Linked DNA regions of Homo sapiens: region 2 is linked to region 1. Evidence: fine-mapped QTL for protein levels in blood plasma. Region 1 holds a variant in brackets. A gene starts in the other region. All regions are shown on their reverse strands.

The links. PIP is the posterior inclusion probability: the model's chance that the variant is causal. The UK Biobank Pharma Proteomics Project read protein levels with antibody pairs (Olink). The fine-mapping took linkage between variants from a reference panel, not from the people measured, so its PIPs are less certain.
Region 2: it holds the start of MST1, and the variant in region 1 is fine-mapped to the plasma level of the MST1 protein (UK Biobank, PIP above 0.99).

The regions. Positions count from the first base shown.
Region 1 is chr4:24,794,846-24,804,147 of GRCh38, reverse strand. It overlaps SOD3 (superoxide dismutase 3), which reads right to left and starts at 8,575. Exons shown (of 2, transcript NM_003102.4): 1 at 8,497-8,575; 2 at 3,306-4,642. The coding sequence starts at 4,626. The coding sequence ends at 3,904. CCDC149 (coiled-coil domain containing 149) reads left to right here. Exons shown (of 13, transcript NM_001395273.1): 13 at 1-634. RefSeq lists an enhancer at 3,923-4,423. The variant G/C (reference allele first, on the strand shown) is at 3,936.
Region 2 is chr3:49,684,797-49,694,098 of GRCh38, reverse strand. It overlaps MST1 (macrophage stimulating 1), which reads left to right and starts at 4,625. Exons shown (of 18, transcript NM_020998.4): 1 at 4,625-5,501; 2 at 6,202-6,349; 3 at 6,431-6,543; 4 at 6,621-6,735; 5 at 6,814-6,950; 6 at 7,032-7,152; 7 at 7,297-7,415; 8 at 7,618-7,786; 9 at 7,907-8,037; 10 at 8,137-8,239; 11 at 8,367-8,503; 12 at 8,593-8,628; 13 at 8,717-8,837; 14 at 9,010-9,087; 1 more. The coding sequence starts at 5,408. It overlaps RNF123 (ring finger protein 123), which reads right to left and starts at 4,542. Exons shown (of 39, transcript NM_022064.5): 1 at 4,493-4,542; 2 at 2,852-2,969; 3 at 2,590-2,674. The coding sequence starts at 2,933. RefSeq lists enhancers at 4,712-5,271, 6,788-7,501, 7,502-8,215 and a silencer at 7,114-7,233.

The sequences.
Region 1 (9,302 bases):
ATTTAAAACACTCCTCCTCCTTAGCAATAGTGAGGGTCCCTTCAGACTAGATAGGATGTCAAAAGGCCAAAGCATTGCCCCCAACACACTCCTTTAATGTAGTCCCTTCTTTCCAGGTGTCTTCCTGAAGAGAGAAAAATTTGTAGATCAGAGAGATGCAATTGGGAGCTCCGTAGTGAATCTAGTTAGAAATGAGTAGCAGAAAAAATAGGAAAGACCCGTCTCTCAATATTATGGTTGCTTCCCAAAACAAAACCAGTTGATACAGCATGAAGGCAATTTAAAATGATAGATATGGACATGCTGCCTTACATTTCATATCACCTCTTTACTAAATGAGAATTTTTTGGATGCATAGGGAAAGTTTGCATAATATTGAAAAGTTTGACTTTCTGGAATCTATGTGAGCTCAGGAATATATTTGGGGATCTTAGCAGAGGCCAGTGGTAGCCTATTAAATCTAAAACAATTGGCTTTGTTTTTAAAACCAGCTGCTATTTTGTAGTTTCATTTAAAGAAAAAGTACCTTCTATTCATTTGCAGAAGTTGCTTTATTGGATTCTATGGTCATTGTATATCATAACTATATCTTTTTTGTTACCTGAAATAAACATGTGGCAATTTTCCTGATAGAGATGATGAATTATCTTTATTGTTTGCTTCATATTCCACCCTCACCACCGGGCAAGCGGAGGCTGAGCATGACTTCTGCCATATTGCAGCAACTTATCAGTTGCAATCTGTCACCTAAAACTATTTGATCATATGGTAGTCATGAAAAATATGGAGAATGTAAAGATTTTATGCATTCAGTCAAAAAAAGGCAGATCTAAAATCAGTTGGTTTATTTCCTGCAGTCTTTCAAGTTGACCAAAGCACTCACTGATTTGCTCTATTTTCTTACGTTTTTAGTATTTCTGTATATATGCACTAAAAAGCCCCACTCAGAAAAAAAAAATCAGTGCAATTCTGAGAAAAAGCTTATCCTAAACATCTAAAGATAGCATTTCTAATTATTGTCTACATTGTGTTTAAACTGTGCAAACTTGAGCATTATTCTCACTTTACCAGCTGTGTCTAGGTAGAGTCATTACATCAAACGCTTCTAATTTTACAAAAAGAAATCAAAACAAGCGTGTGTTTCAGTCCCCGTGACAAATGCAAACCCTGTGAGTCAAATAGGCAAACTGATTAGCAAGCTGGCTGGGAAGTCAAAACAGCAAATATAAGGAGATTAACAAAATAGATCTGTAAGATGAGAGGAGTAAAAATAGACTCCAGGGGCCAAGTGGGGTCCGGTGGGTGGCTTTGGTGGCACACATATGGTTCTGTGCCAGGAACCAGATGTCTGCCTTTATGGCCCACAATCTTCCCTTCATTCTAGGTTCCCTCCCCACAAGAGATGGGATCGCAGAGTTCATGTCATTCAGTCTCTCAATGGATGCAGAAATCCTTCTCGGGAACCTCAGAGGTAGCAACTGTCCTTCATTTGAATCCTGGTTGCATGATGCTCACTGCCTTACAAGGCAGCTCCATCTATTTATTAGTAGGTAGCTGTTTTTTGGATCTTAGCCATTGTTATTAATTAGATACTTACCAGGTCCTTATTTGTTGTGCATGCTATGCTGTGCACCTCTCGTGAATAACACTTGATTTAATCTTCAAAACAATCTGGTATGATGATCTTATTTTACCTATGCTCAGAGAGGTTAAGTGACTTGTTCGGGTCACACAGTTTCTGAGTGTGGCAGAGCTGGGGTTCAAATGGGCCTTTCTACCTGAGTCTGACCTGTTAACCATCATGCTATATGCATATCTTTGCCCTTACAATGAACTGTAAATTGTCTGCCTATTATTTCCTCTTTTTTTTTTTTTCTTGTTTGCTTTTTGCTTTTTTGTTTTGGGGTTTTTTGTTTTGTTTCGTTTTGGTTTTTTGGCTCTGGAGGCCCATGGGATAGTTTATCCATCCCATTCCCAAAACAGAAATAGAGTGAGTCGGCCAGGGTGCCTCTTCAGCCCCCATCTACGGGGTCAAGGGTTGTGAAGAGCAAAACTAAGAACACAATGCAATTGACAAGAAGTGTCAGCCTCCTTCTGAAAAAAAAGGTCCACACCTCCCTTGATGGTCCTGAATTCACCATAACCGAGGCAGCAGAGTAGACGATGGGTGTTTGGCACCCATCCTCTCCATCCTGTGTCCCCGTGTAATAGCTGCCTTGTTGCAACTTGTAATTAGGGGGATATTTGAGATCAGGATCAGGAGATTTAGAGACACTGTTTGCTCATCCCCTTTCAGTGTCGATGAGTACAGTTCAAGTTAGTATTCAAACCAGTGAGAACCAACTGGTGGAGCAAAATCACCAGGCAATAGCCTTTCTCTTCAGTTGTCACTTGGGCTCAAGGAAAGATTTTAAAATAAGTTAGTCCTAGTTAGAGGTAAAAATAACCCCTGGAGACAGGTTTCTGGCTGCGGTTCAGTTGGACGCACTGCCTAGCTAGTCTGGGAGAAATGGAAGCTGCCTCCCAGTAACCAGGGTGGAAAAGTCACAGCTAGGAAGTGAGGCTACCCTGGGAGGCTAAAAAGTTATTGCAAGTACGTTTATTCCATGAATGAAGGTGTATACACAAGACTGTTCTAGCCTGGGTATAGATTATAAGTTTCAAAAGAAAGCTGAACTCCCAACAAGCCTTCATCAAAATCAACTGCCTTTCCATCCCACTGCCTCCGTTTGCCTCTGGTTTTGGTCCTGCCAAATGCTAACAACGTCACATTCCAACCCTACTCTTCTGTGCCTAGGCAAGATGCAGTCACCTGGCTTCCCTGGCACTGTCTCTGATATCTGGGAAATGGACCTAAGGCTGTACTCGGAGGCAGATGTGACAAGCTACCAGCCCAGGTGAGATGGAAGGCCTCTTCCCCTCTCAGGCCAGAGGGTCCAGTGCCAGAATCATCCCGACGCTTGTCGCAAATTCACTTTCTCTTCTCCCTTTGGATTCCACAGCTCTGGGATGTAGCCCAGGAAGCTGTATTTTTTTTTTTTAACTTCCCTGAGTGATTCTGGTGATCTTCCTCTTGGAGCCACACTGAAGGGCAAGACAAGCAGTGGCTGAACGTTGTTGCCAGCAGGGTTAGGGAGGTGGGGGCAGAGGATAAGGAGAAGTCCTGTAGGGATTTGGGAAGCATGTTTGCCACTCCCAAAAAAAAGAAAAAAAAGGAAAACGAAAACAAAACAAAAAAAAGCTCAGCTTGGGAGAGAAGCCTAAAACAAACAAACAAAAAAGTAACCAAGACCTCGACGCAGTACTGAATTGCTGAATTTTTAATCTGTAACACAAAGGTTGCCAAACATTCCCCCAAAGGAGCAGCTCTCAGTGGGGTGGCGGTGGATGCGAAACAGCTGAAGACGCGGGGCAGTTGGCCTGGCTTCCGTTGCACGGGCTGGCTTCCCGCGGGAGCGGTGGTGGGTGGGGAGGGGTGGGGGGACTCGAGGCAACCCCCCAGAGCGGCCTCTGAGCGCCTAGGAGGAACCTGAAGGCGGGAAGGGGGAAGATCGTCAGGTCAAAGGCGGGAGTCTCAGGGCTTATGGGGTGGGGAAGGAGGGTCTGGGTGGAAAGGTACCTCAGGGAGCCTAGGAGGCTGTCAGCGTGAGCGGGGTGTTTCGGTACAAATGGAGGCCTTCAGACCTACTGAGTGGGGGGCTCCGAGGGTTGGGGCGGTCCTCAGGATGGAAGGATGGTGGGTCTCGGTATAGGGAGACCTCTGGGTGGAGAGGGCTGCGGGGAGACTTCAGCAAAGGCGAAGGTGAGACCTCAGAGTGGAGGGTGTCTGTTGGAGCAGAGGAGAAGCTCAAAGGCAGAGGGGGGCCTCGGGGGTCCCTGGCCGCCGCCGGGTGGGGGCCGCGCTCAGGCGGCCTTGCACTCGCTCTCGCGCCGCC[G/C]CTTCTTGCGCTCTGAGTGCTCCCGCGCCTGGCGCTCCCAGAGCCCGGGCCCGCACACGCCCACCACGCAGCAGGCCAGCCGCCGGCCCGCGTTCCCGTTCTCCACGCTGGCCTGGTTGCCGCCGCGGCCCAGGTCGTCCTCGCCAGCGTGGACGACCACGGCCCGGCCCACGATGGAGTGCGGGCCCGCGAGCGAGGCGGCCAGGCCGGCGCGGTACCTCCAGAGGCTGCCGTCGCGGACCGCGAAGTTGCCGAAGTCGCCCGGGTGCTGCGGGTGCGGCACGGCCAGCGGGTTGTAGTGGGGCCCGGTGGACTCGCAGCCCTGGCTCAGGTCCCCGAACTGGTGCACGTGGATGGCGCGGCTGGAGCTGTTCGGCTCGGTCGGGAAGCCCTCCAGGGCGAAGAAGGCGTCGAGCTTGGCGCGGGGCGCAAGCTGCCGGAAGAGGACGACGCCGGTCACCCGGGGCTGCGCGGCGTCCAGCGTGGCCGACGGCTGCACCTGGCAGGCGGCGTGGAGCGCGCCGTCGTCGTCCCGCCGCTGCATGACCTCCTGCCAGATCTCCGTGACCTTGGCGTACATGTCTCGGATCCACTCCGCCGAGTCAGAGTTGGGCTCCGCCGAGTCCTCGCCCGTCCAGGCGTCCGAGGCACCGGCTGCCAGGAGCAGGCAGGAACACAGTAGCGCCAGCATGGCTGGAGTCGGGCACCTGCGGGACGCCCCCGCGGAGGTGGGGGCAGAGTGAGGCTTAGTCACGTGAAACATAGAATCTCAGGGACCCCATTATCGCAGAACCAACCCCCCAGTCCCCAGTGGGCTTCCTGGCCCAGTGGGCATGACTTCATGTGGCAAACGTTTGTCTAGGGCCTGCTGTGTGCCGGGCACTGTGTTAGGTGCTGTGGCTGTAAAGATGGGTGAGACCCAATCTGAAGAAACCCACAGGGATCTGAGTCACAAATGATCATCGTCCTCTCCAGTCCCATCTCTATAGCGTGGAGGGGGTCTCAGGGAGCGTGAGGGGTGTCTCATGGCCCTTCCAGACCACCTCCCTCATCTCCCCACCTGGTCTCCTGTTACCCTCTTCCTCCATCCTCCCCCACAGACATCCCTAAGGCTTCTGTCCCTGCCTTCTGGGGCTTTGCATGTGCTACGCCTTCTCCCTGAAGTGCCTTCTCCCTGTTCTCTGCTACACTCAGTAGACTTGGAGCTTCTTGAAGACAGAAACTCAGTTTTATTCATCGGTATCCCCAGCACCTGGGCCCACACCTGGCAAAAGGAAACATATAATATGGATTTTGCATAAGGAGTTCAGTGAGGGACAGACTTGGCATCCAATCATTCCAGCACAATCCTGTGATTGAAGATGGGGCCTGTGCTGGAGAAGGACAGAGGAGGCAGTACCCATCTCCCTAGGAGCCTCAGGGAAGGCTTCTCAGAGGTGGTGACTTTTGAACTGGGTTCCACAAGATGGGTAGGAGTTTTCCAGCCAAGTTGGGTAGGAAGGCCATCTCAGCAGGCAGTGCAGTGGAAGTTTTTAAGAAGAAAAGTGGGTGATGAGATAGTCTTTAGTTCCTTAAGTCCTACTGGTAAAAGGATATGGGTTGGACTTTGGGATGAAGAGGAAAGGGGAGGAAGAATGGGAGTAGCCTAGGGAGAGACAGAGAAGCAGAAATAGAGACAGTGAGATGAGTTAGGGGGCGTTGTAGTAACCCAAGCAGGAAATGAAGGCTTTTACCAAAGTGCAGGTGGTGCACACAGAGGAGGCATGGGTTTAAGAGACACACCGGGCAGCACTGGCAGGATGGAAGATGAAGGCACAGTGCAGATGACCAGGGTTCCCAGCAGGAGAGACTGAGTGGAGGGAGGGTGGGACCTGTTCTGGAAAAGCAGGGAGAGAGGATTAGTTCAGCTGGAGTCTCCTGAGGGTGAGACGCTGGCGGGTGCCCAGGTGGGAAGACAGGTGGGCAGACAGTCGGAAACTTGGGTCTGGCACTTAGAAGAGGAGATGAAGCTGGCAGGGGTTCTCAGTGTTGACTGCACATCAGATGTCTGGTTTTTAAAAATCAGATGCCCAGGCCCCACCCCAAGAGATTTTGATTCTGTGAGAAAGAAAGGAGAGAAGAAAGACAGAGAGAGAGGAAGGAAGGGAAAGAAAGAGGAAAGAAAGAAAAGAAAAGAAAGAAGACACCTCTATCAAAGATTCTGGGGCCCAGCTAGGAATTATAAAGTCAGGTACAGATTTGAATCCCAATTCCAACCTATACTAACTGTGACTTCACGGGGTTACTGATGCTTAGCTTCAAGTTCCTTACCTGTAGAATAAGGCCAGCCATGCCACCGAGGTATTTCCAGAGGGATTGATGCTGCCTCCAAAGAATTGCTTTGAAGGTCAACTGCATTTCCAGCACCAAACTAGGTGCCATTTAAAAAACTCCAAGATTGGGTAGATATGCTTTATATAACCATTTCAGAAAGGCAATTTAGTGTGGTTATTAAAGGGATGGATTCCAGAACTCACCTCATGAATCTAAAGCCTGACTCTGCCACTTAGTCTAAGGGTTAGCTGTTACTATTTTTATTGCTGAGTAGCAGAGTAATTGCTGGACTGCAGACTGTACACTGTCTCATCCCCTGTGAACCTCAGTTTTCTCATCTGTAAATAGGGATACTAATACAGACTTACCTTAGAGGCTTGCTGCGAGGCTTAAAAGAGATGATTAGAATTGCTAAAACTTATCGAACACAGGCGCCAGACACTATTATAAGTACTGTGCGTGGGTTAATTCCCTGCATCCTCACAAGAACATTATTCAGTGTTATCCCCATTCTAAAGTGTAGGAAACTGAGGCACAGAGAGGCGTGTGTCCCGCCCAAGGTGACATGTTCACTAAGGAGCTGAAGGCAGGATTTGAAAGTGTGTGTCTGCTCCAAGCCCAAGGTTTAGGCACCACACTGCACATCTCTCATCTAGGGCACTTAGCACAGAGCCCAGTACATAGAAAGTTCCCAGTAAATGGCAGCTCTTAGCTATCAGAGAGAGCTGCTGGTAGAGATTTTAAGGACCATTAGCTAAGAGATGCTATGGACACTGTGAGAGGAGGTCCCCTTGAAAGGCTCCAAGAAGGAGGATCCAGAAAGAGGGAGAAGCAGAGAAAGTGATGTTGAAGGACTCACCTAAATGACATGGCCCAATGTGGTACTACTACCCCAAAGCCCCAGGGAGTAGGCAGGAAAGTGGGGTAACTCTCCTGCCAGACCTGGACATGAAGTTCCCCATCATCAAAGACACCTTCCTCCTAAGACAGCCCTGCCACTCAGAAGGGCTCTGCTGCTTAGAAAGTTCTCCCTAAAAGCACAGAGCAAAACCAGATTGTTTTGGGTGTGTCAGTGAGCTTTCTTTTTCAAGAATCCTTGGGAAATAAACATTTTAAGGAGATGTTTTTCTCTGAAACCAAAAGAAGAGCCAGGCATGGTGGCTTATGCCTGTAATCCCACCCCTTTGGGAGGATGAGACAGGAGAATCATTTGAGTACAAGAGTATGAGACCAACCTGGTAGAGACCCCCATCTCTAGCAAAAAAAAAAAAAAAAAATAGCTGGGTGTGGTGGCATGTGCCTGTAGTCCCAGTTACTCAGGAGGTTGAGGTAGGAGGATCGCTTGAGCCCGGGAGGTAGAGGCTGTAGTGAGCCGTGATAGTGATCGTGCCACTACATTCCAGCCTGGGTGCTGGGTGACAGAATGAGACCATGTCTCAAAAAAAAAAAAAAAAAAAAAAAAAAGAGAAGAAGGAGGAGGAGGAGGAAAAGGGGGAAAGAAAATTCTCCCTCAAACCCAGGTAAACTCTGACTTCTTGTTTCTTAAGCCTTTGACACCTCTTCCCCTCGGGACCAACTTGATTCTTCTCCCACAGCCTCTTGCTCAGTTTGAGCTGTGAATGACCAAGTGCCTTTTTAAGGGCCTCCTTTGTACGTGGATCTGGAAGGGAGGACGGTGTTATCAGAGAAAGAGGACAGTGTTATCAGAGAAAGAGGACAGGGGCCCTTATCCTGAACCAAATAGAGGCACCAAGCCTTTATCTCCTTCCTGGGTCTGTATCTGGGAAGAACCTGCCCCTCTTGAGCCTTGGGTGTGTTTCATCCCTCAGCTGTCTCCTAGAAGGAGCTCTTGCTGGGAGCCTGAGCTGGCCAGGGCCTCTCTGCTTTCCTAAGGAGGTGGCTTTTTAGAGTACCTGCTGTCCCATAAGTGGCTCCCGACACCAAAGCCATGCAACATCTAGAAAGGCCCCCTTTCTCGTCACTCCAGATTCCTTTTCCTAACACTAAAATCCTCTTGGACTGGTCTTTGCAGATCCACAGGAGGAACGGTTTCTTCCTCCCCTCCTTGCCTTCCTCCCCGCTCACTCCACCTCCCCACTAACCCCTCAGAGCAGCCAGGGAAAGTACATTTCCTTCCCAAGAAGATGATCCAATTTGTTCCCAAGAAGAGGCCCGTTGCCCCAACCCAGCTTCAGACTCAATAAGCACACTCCGAGAAGAACAAAATGAACCTCAACTTAGCACCCACCTTTCCAGCTCCTCCAAGAGAGCTTTCTCTCCTGAAAAGAGAGCTGCACCCAGCCAGCCCAGGAACGCAGGCTGTCCCTGGAGCCTGGGCTGTTAGCGCGAGTGCAGGAGGCCAGCCCAGAGGAGTGGTCAGCGTGAGGGAGCCAGTCATTGGGCCAGTTCAGGGAGGAAAAGCAGGCCAGACCTCCCCGGGTTGTAGAATTGCTTCGCCTCCACCTCCTCCCGCTCTGTCCCCACCTCCTCTGCCCCTCCCATTTTTGGGTTTTCGGGCCAAGGATTCCATTCCGCGACTTCACCGGCTTGTAGCCAGTGACCTTCAGCACACAGCAGGGGAATAAAAATGAGAAAGAAAATCGCCTGTTTGGAGAGGTGTACAATGACCTCTTTATTGAGAGGCCCTTTGCTTTTCTGTAAGTCAATAACTTATTGACTTATTTTTGCTGCATGGAAATGGGCACCTTGCAAATGTGCGTGGCATTTGCTCCAGAGCTGTGCTGTCATACCTATGAGAGCAGAGCAGCGGGTGGGTCGTGATGACACACTCAGGCTGCAGAGTCCCAGCCTTGTCACTTCCTATCTGTGTACGCCTGAAGCAGCTGCACCACTCCCTGCACCTCCTTTTCATCATCTGTAAAATGGGGGTGTGAGGCTGTCCACCCCGCACGCCCACCGTGAAGATCCAATGAGATCATTACTCGCCCAGTGACAACACAGTGGCTGGCACTAGCCGCACTCATAAGTAATCATCATTGTCATTGTCGTTACCGTTATTATTAAAGAGATGAAGGAGTCTTTTTAAAAAATGTG
Region 2 (9,302 bases), not on the chromosome of region 1:
AAAAGCTTCTGCATAGCAAAGTAAACGATCAACAAAGTGAAGAGACAGCCCACAAATGGGAGAAAATATTTGTAAACTACCCATCTGACAAGGGATTAATAACCAGAATATACAAAGAACGCAAACAACTCTATAGGAAAAAAACTAATAATTCCATCAAAAGATGGGCAAAAGATACGAACAGACATTTCTCAAAAGAAGACATACGAATGGTAAACAGGCATATGGAAAGGCATTCAACGTCACTGGTCATCAGAGAAATGCAAATCAAAACTACGAGATATCATCTCACACCAGCTAAAATGGCTTTTATCCAAAAGACAGGCAATAACAAATGCTGGCGAGGTTGTGGAACCCCTGTATGCTGTTAGTGGGAATGTAAATTATAATAGTGCAATCACTATCGAGAACAGTTTGGAGGTTCCTCAAAAAACTAAAAATTGGTCAGGTGCGGTGGCTCATGCCTGTAATCTCAGCACTTTGGGACGTCGAGGTGGGAGGATCACCTGAGGCTAGGAGTTCGAGACCAGCCTGGCCAACATGGCGAAACCCCATCTCTACTAAAAATACCAAAATTAACTGGGTGTGGTGGTTTGTGCCTGTAATCCCAGCTACTCGGGAGGCTGAGGCAGGAGAATTACTAGAACTTGGGAGGCAGAGGTTGCAGTGAGCCAAGATCATGCCACTGCACTCCAGGCTGGGCAACAAGAGCAAAACTCCATCTCAAAAAAAAAAAAAAAAAAAAAAAAAAGGCCAGGCACACTGGCTCACGCCTGTAATCCCAGCACTTTGGGAGGCCGAGGTGGGCGGATCACGAGCTCAGGAGATCAAGACCATCCTGGCTAACACGGTGAAACCCCGTCTCTACTAAAAATGCAAAAAATTAGCTGGGCATGGTGGCGGGCACCTGCAGTCCCAGCTACTTGGGAGGCTGAGGCAGAAGAATGGCATGAACCTGGGAGGCGGAGCTTGCAGTGAGCTGAGATTGTGCCCCTGCACTCCAGCCTGGGCAACAGAGCAAGACTCCGTCTCAAAAAAAAAAATTTTTCAAAAAAAAAAAAACTAAACTAAAAATTGAGCTACCATATGATCCAGCAACCCCACTGCTGGGTATATACCTGAAAGAAGGGAAATCAGTATATCAAAGAGATATCTGCATTCCCATGTTTGTTGCAGCACTGTTCACAATAGCCAAGATTTGGAAGCAATCTAAGTGTCCATCAACAGATGAATAAATAAAGAAAACATGGTACATATACACAACGGAGTACTATTCGGCCATAAAAAAGAATGAGATCCTGTAATATGCAACAACATGGATGGAACTGGAGGTCATTATGTTAAATGAAATAAGCCAGGCAGAAAAAGACAAACATTGCATGTTATCACTTATTTGTGACAGCTAAAAATTAAAACAATTGAACTCATAGAGGCAAAGTACTGGATGGTTACCAGAGGCTTGGAAGGGTAGTATAGGGCTTGTGGGGAGATGGGGATGGCTAATGCGTACAAAAAAATTGAATTAATGAGACCTATCTGGTAGCAGAACAGAGTGACTATAGTAAATAATAATTGTACATTTAAAAATAACTAAAAGAGTATAACTAGATTGTTTATAAGACAAAAGATAAATGCTTGAGGGGATGGATACCCCATTTACCATGATGTGATTATTACGCATTGCATGCCTGTATCAAAGTATCTCATGTACCCTATAAATATATATACCTACTACATACCCACAAAAATTAAAAATTAAAAATGTAACACAAAGAAAGAAACAGAAAAGAATCACATTTGAATAGTCATGTTAAAATAACAAGATAGCAGGTGCTTTTCCTTCTTTTTTTAGAGACAGGGTCTTGCTCTGTCACCCAGGCTACAGTGCAGTGGCATGCAGAGGCCAACTCACTGCAGCCTCAACCTCCTAGGCTCAAGTGATCCTCCCACATCAGCCTCCCTAACAGCTGGGACTACAGGTGCACACCACCATGCCCAGGTAATTTCTGTATTTTATTGTAGAGATGGGGTCTTGCCATGTTGCTCAGGCTGGTCTTGAACTCCTGGACTCAAGCAATCTACCCACCTTGGCCTCCCAAAGTGCTGGGATTACAGGTGTGAACCACTGTGCCTGGCCCTCTAAGTTTCTGCTAAAATGTACTTGTAACTTTTATACTGACTACACTTAAAAGTATTAAACTTGTAAAGAAAAGGCCCTGGAGGAGTTTGTTCTTTACAAGGTCAGTCAGAAGCTACAAGGGGCCAGGCTGGGGCCAAGGTGAGGGCAGGTACATGCAGGGGCAGATGCTGGGTATGGAGTAGGTGCCAGGTGCTAGCTGGGCATGAATGTGCACCCGCTCCCTGACCTCTGCTCCCTGACTCTCAGAAGGAACTAGCACTGCCTGGAGACAGGAAGAAGCAGAGTACGGAAGGCAGACTCTCTGGCCAGAGATCTCGCAGCCAGGAGCACAGTGAGAACAGAGCCTAAGCCTATCTGTCCAGAGCCCAGGCTCCCTTTCCCTACAACTGCAGCCTCCTTATTCTGGTCTGGCCCAGCAGAGTGAGGAGGGGCCACCCACCCAGCCATACCTGCTGGTGGCTGCTGGGGGTGCATGTTCAGAAGAGGAAAAGATGCGGTTCAGGTAGTCATTCAGCAGCTTCTCCTGCACAATGCCTGAGCCACAAGTCAGAAGGGAGAAAAGGGCCACATGATCAGTGCAGCTCCTGGCCCCTGCTGGCCCCAGAGACTTCTGGTCCTAGGCCAGCCACAGGTGCAGCAAGGCCTGAGGCCTTTGTCCCTTCCTTCTCCTCCCAACAAGAGGAGCCTCCTTCCTTCCCTGCCAGCTCTTACCTGTGACCCTGGATTTCTCAGCATCTGAGGTCAGCCTATAGCTCTTGCGGGAGAAAGACATGCCGGCCCCCTTGGATGCCATCCTTCATCTCTCATGGGCAGCCAGTGGTCCTGGGGGCTGAGCCAGACACAGAGCCTGTCTACTCAGGGCCAGCCAGGGGCCCCCACACCTGACCTCAGTCCTGCCATGGCAGGAAGGCTTGGGAGCAGGTGAGGCCAGGGGCATGCACACTAACACATAGGGCAGGGGAATGCAGGGGCTCCCAGCTTCCTACACAGGGAGGGTAGCCAGGGTCTAGGCCCATGTAACAGGGACCACTTCTTGTTCTCCAGTGTCCCTGTGCCCAGCACAGGGCTGGGCAGAGAGCAGGTACTAGATATATTTTTGCCGAACCATAACAAAATGTCTCAGCTCTGTGGAAATCAGACCAAAATGTCCAAAGTGAGGTGTCCTAGGGGCAGAGCCCCTGTATCCATCTCAGTTGTAAGCCATACTGAGTCCAGCTCACAACCAGAAGCGACAATCCTACACATTCCCCCAAGTGCAGACCACCACTGGTCTGGTCATCTCTAGCCATAAGTCCCACTTACTCCCCACAAGGCTGGAGCCTCTTTCCTCAGCCCTGGGTTCCTCCCTTCTTTTATCCATGGTCCTGATAGTTTCACCATTCCCACTCACACATGTGGCCTCCCACCTCATCCAAGCACCACCCTTGCCCAGCCCTCATGGCAAACTCCATTGGTCCTCCTAGTGCATCTATCCCTCACATCATGTTGCTGCTGCAGCTGCTCCAGAACCTGCACTGAGTCCCTGGTGCTGGCCTCACTGATGTGTAGCGGTGCTGTCCAACACAGCAGCCGTCATCCACATGAGGTTACTTAAATTTAAAGTTTTAAAAATTAACAATTCGATTTCTCAGTTGCCTTAGCCACATTTCAAGAGTTCAATGACCACATGTGGCTAATGGTTACTCTGTTGGACAGCACAAAGGTAGAACGTTCCCACCATCATATAAAGTTCTATTAGACAGCGCAGGTCTAGAGTTTCGCTCTGCAGCACTGCCTTAGCCAGCACTCCCTACTCTGCAGTTCAGTCTCTTATCTCACCCCAAACAGACCCTCTACTCCCGCCACAAACCCTTGTGGGTCTGCACCACGCCTGCTCCTCGGGAAGGTGATTTTCCCGACCTCGGGCCCTCGGTGGGCGTCCATGATCGGTGCCCCTTCACTACCAGAGTAGTTGAAGATCTGATTAAACTCAGTCATTCATTTGATGAGCAGACCTTCCAGACACCCGGAGTGGGCTCCGGGAGTCAGTTGCTGAGGACCCAGGTGAGAGGCGGACCTTGTCCCCGCCCGGGGACTCCCTGTCACGGCTATCCCGTCCAACCCCGCCGGGGTATCCGGACTCAGAACTGAACCTACTCCGTCTGGGAGCCCAAGGACGGCGAGGGCGGCGCATGGCTCCCCCAAGTCGCCCCCGCCTGGCCCCAAGCTCCACAGGACCTGCCAGACCAGCTTCCGCTCGGAGTTTCGCACCCAGATCCCTGCGCTGCAGGTGCCCTCGCACTGGACTAGCCCGGACCGCGAAGGGAATAGCCGGAACCCGCCAGGCTCAGAGCCCTGCCGCCCCTCACTCACCCGGAGCCTCGGCCGCAGCGACCCGGCTCACAACATCCGCCCAACCTCTTGGCTACGGCGTCCGTTCAGGGCCAAATCACGCGCACGCTTGCGCGCTGAGCCTCCAGCCGCGCACGCGCACTGGCCCGCGCCCAGCCTCCGCTAGGGGACCCCCTCCATGGCTTCCCACCGGGTTGTTCCAGGCCTCAGCTTCGCCGAAAGGCCTCACCACCTCCGACCTCCGCCTGCTCTGGGGATGCTCCCAGCCCTGCTGCGGCAGAACGCGACATGCTAACCGGAATCCCTAGGCCGCCTGTCTCCTACCCATACTTAGAGGCCCCGCTCAGACGGTCCTTAAAACGTCTGAAAGGCCGTTCCTGCCAGAGTCCCTGCTACCTGTTACCTCCACCCCTATTTAGTCCTAGTGGACAGCCTCGCTCACCTTCCCTGGGATGACACTTCTGGCGGCTGAGATGAGCGAGCCTCTCTGGGCTCTGCCGCCGGGTGTGGGCTGACCTGCCTACAGCTGGGGCCTGATAAGGCAGCAGCAAAAGGGTGGAGGGGAGGCAGTGTTGAAGCTGGGGCAAGTAATTTTCCCCAATTTACAGGGAAAAACCGAAATTCAGAAAAGTTTAATGTCACCCAGGGGCTGGAGCCCAGACCTCTGGCAGCTCTCACTTTCACAATGCCCTTGGGCTGACTAGGCTGCAGAGGGGTTTCACCCCAACCCCAGGGCACCTCAAGTGTCCCCACCAAACCTTCCTAACACCTGTCCACTAAGCTGTACTAGGCCCTTGCAACTGACCTATGGGACCTGAGGCCTGGCCCCTCATGGCTCCTGTCACCAGGTCTCAGGTCAGGGTCCAGCAGGCCCTGAGCTGACGTGTGGAGCCAGAGCCACCCAATCCCGTAGGGACAGGTTTCACAACTTCCCGGATGGGGCTGTGGTGGGTCACAGTGCAGCCTCCAGCCAGAAGGATGGGGTGGCTCCCACTCCTGCTGCTTCTGACTCAATGCTTAGGGGTCCCTGGTAAGTGCCCCCAACCCTGATCCCCATCTGCCTTCAGGAGGGGGTTGGCCCCATTCTCCTATTCTAGGATGAGAAAAAAGTCGGGGAGCCAGAGGCTCAGTGGGCATGGGGCAGTGACCTTGCCCTCTTGAGCACAGCTGGGAAGCCCTAGGAACACATAGACATTGCCCACTTAGGCCTCTATTAGCACGTCTGCTCTAGCACTGAAGCAGTGTCAGGACCACACAGATGCACGCACACAGCAGGCAGTGACCCCTCCTGAGCCTGATCTACCCCTCTAACCTAGCATATGCCTTTGTGCAGGTGAGAGCCCAGATTTGGAGTCTGAATGCCTAGCCAGGGCCCCTGGCTGGGTAATGTGATGGCTCTGAGCCTTAGCATTCTCATTTGAGAGATGAGGTGGGGCAAGCTTCATCACCCACTGCTCTCACAGAGCGTATGTGTTAGATCTGAGCCCGGTGCCTGGGCCACTAAACAGAGGCACCGGTGATAACTACCAAGTCTGGGCCTGCTTCCCAGGGGAAATTTTTTTCACAAGTATCTGTGCAGGGGGCTAGACTGGCCCTTGAAAGTGCATACAGGGTCCATCCCAGAAGCCTTGTAGCTTTGATCCCCTGAATGAACAAAGTGTGGACATGCCAATACACATTACTGACATGTATGCCCACCTGACCTGCACCCACTCATGCCTACTCTGCAGGGCAGCGCTCGCCATTGAATGACTTCCAAGTGCTCCGGGGCACAGAGCTACAGCACCTGCTACATGCGGTGGTGCCCGGGCCTTGGCAGGAGGATGTGGCAGATGCTGAAGAGTGTGCTGGTCGCTGTGGGCCCTTAATGGACTGCCGGTGAGTGGCCACTGGGCCTAGATAAGACTGGGGGCAGGGAAGCCTGGGCTGTGGCGTTACCCTGTGCCTTCTTCTCTCCAGGGCCTTCCACTACAACGTGAGCAGCCATGGTTGCCAACTGCTGCCATGGACTCAACACTCGCCCCACACGAGGCTGCGGCGTTCTGGGCGCTGTGACCTCTTCCAGAAGAAAGGCAAGTGGGGGTGGAGAGGGGCAGGGTGGGAGACAGGGGACCTCAGCCCAAGTTGATCTTCTGTCTCTTGCTCCCAGACTACGTACGGACCTGCATCATGAACAATGGGGTTGGGTACCGGGGCACCATGGCCACGACCGTGGGTGGCCTGCCCTGCCAGGCTTGGAGCCACAAGTTCCCAAATGATCACAAGTGAGACAAACACCTTCCCTCCGTCCCGGCCTGGGGCCTTCCCCCAGCACACACTATAGTGATGCTCTGGGCCCTCAGGTACACGCCCACTCTCCGGAATGGCCTGGAAGAGAACTTCTGCCGTAACCCTGATGGCGACCCCGGAGGTCCTTGGTGCTACACAACAGACCCTGCTGTGCGCTTCCAGAGCTGCGGCATCAAATCCTGCCGGGAGGGTAAGCGGCGCCGGGTCAAGCTGGGAGAGTGGAGGGACAAGCCCACGTCCATCCACGAACCCACTGGCTCTTTGTCTCCAGCCGCGTGTGTCTGGTGCAATGGCGAGGAATACCGCGGCGCGGTAGACCGCACGGAGTCAGGGCGCGAGTGCCAGCGCTGGGATCTTCAGCACCCGCACCAGCACCCCTTCGAGCCGGGCAAGTACGCGTAGGCGGTATCGGCGTCCTGGGGGCCGGGCTAGGGAAGGTCCAGGACTCCAGGGGCAGGGCTCCGTGTAGGGCAATTGGGCGGGGCCAGATAAGCCAGAGTCCCAGGGTCTTGTTCACGCCCCATTACCGCCCCCAGGTTCCTCGACCAAGGTCTGGACGACAACTATTGCCGGAATCCTGACGGCTCCGAGCGGCCATGGTGCTACACTACGGATCCGCAGATCGAGCGAGAGTTCTGTGACCTCCCCCGCTGCGGTAGGCGGCGGGGACCAGGCCTGGGAGGGTACCTGGGAACCTTGGGGAGGGGCGTGGCTTGGCCGGGGAGGTAAGAGGGGCTGGGCGTGACCTGAGAGCATACCCCGTGGAGTACCGTACACCTGGGAAAGGCGGGTTTGGTCCCAGCCCCAGAGGGATCTCAGCTCTCGCTCGGGGCCCGACCTATCTCGGTCCATCTAAGGGTCCGAGGCACAGCCCCGCCAAGAGGCCACAACTGTCAGCTGCTTCCGCGGGAAGGGTGAGGGCTACCGGGGCACAGCCAATACCACCACTGCGGGCGTACCTTGCCAGCGTTGGGACGCGCAAATCCCGCATCAGCACCGATTTACGCCAGAAAAATACGCGTGCAAGTGAGGTGGGGGGGGGGGGCGGGCGTTGGGACGTGCTGCTGCGGGTGAGACGGGAGGAAGGTAGTCACGGGCTCAAGGCTGGAGGCTGGCGGGCTAGGGCTGAGTGGAGCGCCTGCTTAGAGACCTTCGGGAGAACTTCTGCCGGAACCCCGACGGCTCAGAGGCGCCCTGGTGCTTCACACTGCGGCCCGGCATGCGCGCGGCCTTTTGCTACCAGATCCGGCGTTGTACAGACGACGTGCGGCCCCAGGGTGAGGCCCAAGCTTGGGGGCTACAGAGCCGGGCTGGAAGCCTGGAACCGGAGGGCCGGGGCGAGGTCTCGGCCTGATGGCTGCCCGCACCCGCCACAGACTGCTACCACGGCGCAGGGGAGCAGTACCGCGGCACGGTCAGCAAGACCCGCAAGGGTGTCCAGTGCCAGCGCTGGTCCGCTGAGACGCCGCACAAGCCGCAGTGAGTCCCTGGTGCTCCCGGCCCCGCCAGGGCCCTAACCCTGGGGCGGCATGCTTTGGTGTCTGGGACCAGAGCCTGGAAATGGTTGAGACTACCCTGCCACGATTTTGCTCCCGCTTCCGCCTAGGTTCACGTTTACCTCCGAACCGCATGCACAACTGGAGGAGAACTTCTGCCGGAACCCAGATGGGGATAGCCATGGGCCCTGGTGCTACACGATGGACCCAAGGACCCCATTCGACTACTGTGCCCTGCGACGCTGCGGTGAGCACTAGTGACGCTTCCCCCATGACCCTGCCTCAGCCCCCACCCAAAGGCTGGCTCCCTTAACCCCAGTGAACTTTGTCTTTCAGCTGATGACCAGCCGCCATCAATCCTGGACCCCCCAGGTTAGGAGTTGGGCCAGTTATGGGTCAGGCCCTTTAGCCCACGACATCCACACAGTCTGGGTTTCATCCAGCCCACCCCATCCTACAGACCAGGTGCAGTTTGAGAAGTGTGGCAAGAGGGTGGATCGGCTGGATCAGCGGCGTTCCAAGCTGCGCGTGGTTGGGGGCCATCCGGGCAACTCACCCTGGACAGTCAGCTTGCGGAATCGGTGAGGCACAACTGCCTGTCTCCCACAGAGAGGAGCTGAGGTTGTGTCCTCTGTGGTTATCCCACTGGGGGCTGGGAATCTATCCCTGCCCCCAGAGGTCCTAGCCAGAAGATGGCAGGTCTAGCATCTGTCCCAGGAGTCTGTTACCTGTCCTAATTCCCCACTCCTCTAGGCAGGGCCAGCATTTCTGCGGGGGGTCTCTAGTGAAGGAGCAGTGGATACTGACTGCCCGGCAGTGCTTCTCCTCCTGGTGAGCCTCCCTTGTGTTTGGGGACCCAGTCTCATCCCACCTTCCCCCTTCCCCAGGCAAGCTAACAAGTGAGCCTTGGGGCAATGGACTGAGAGTCACAAATGACCTAGCAGAGCTTCTCTCCCAGCCATATGCCTCTCACGGGCTATGAGGTATGGTTGGGCACCCTGTTCCAGAACCCACAGCATGGAGAGCCAAGCCTACAGCGGGTCCCA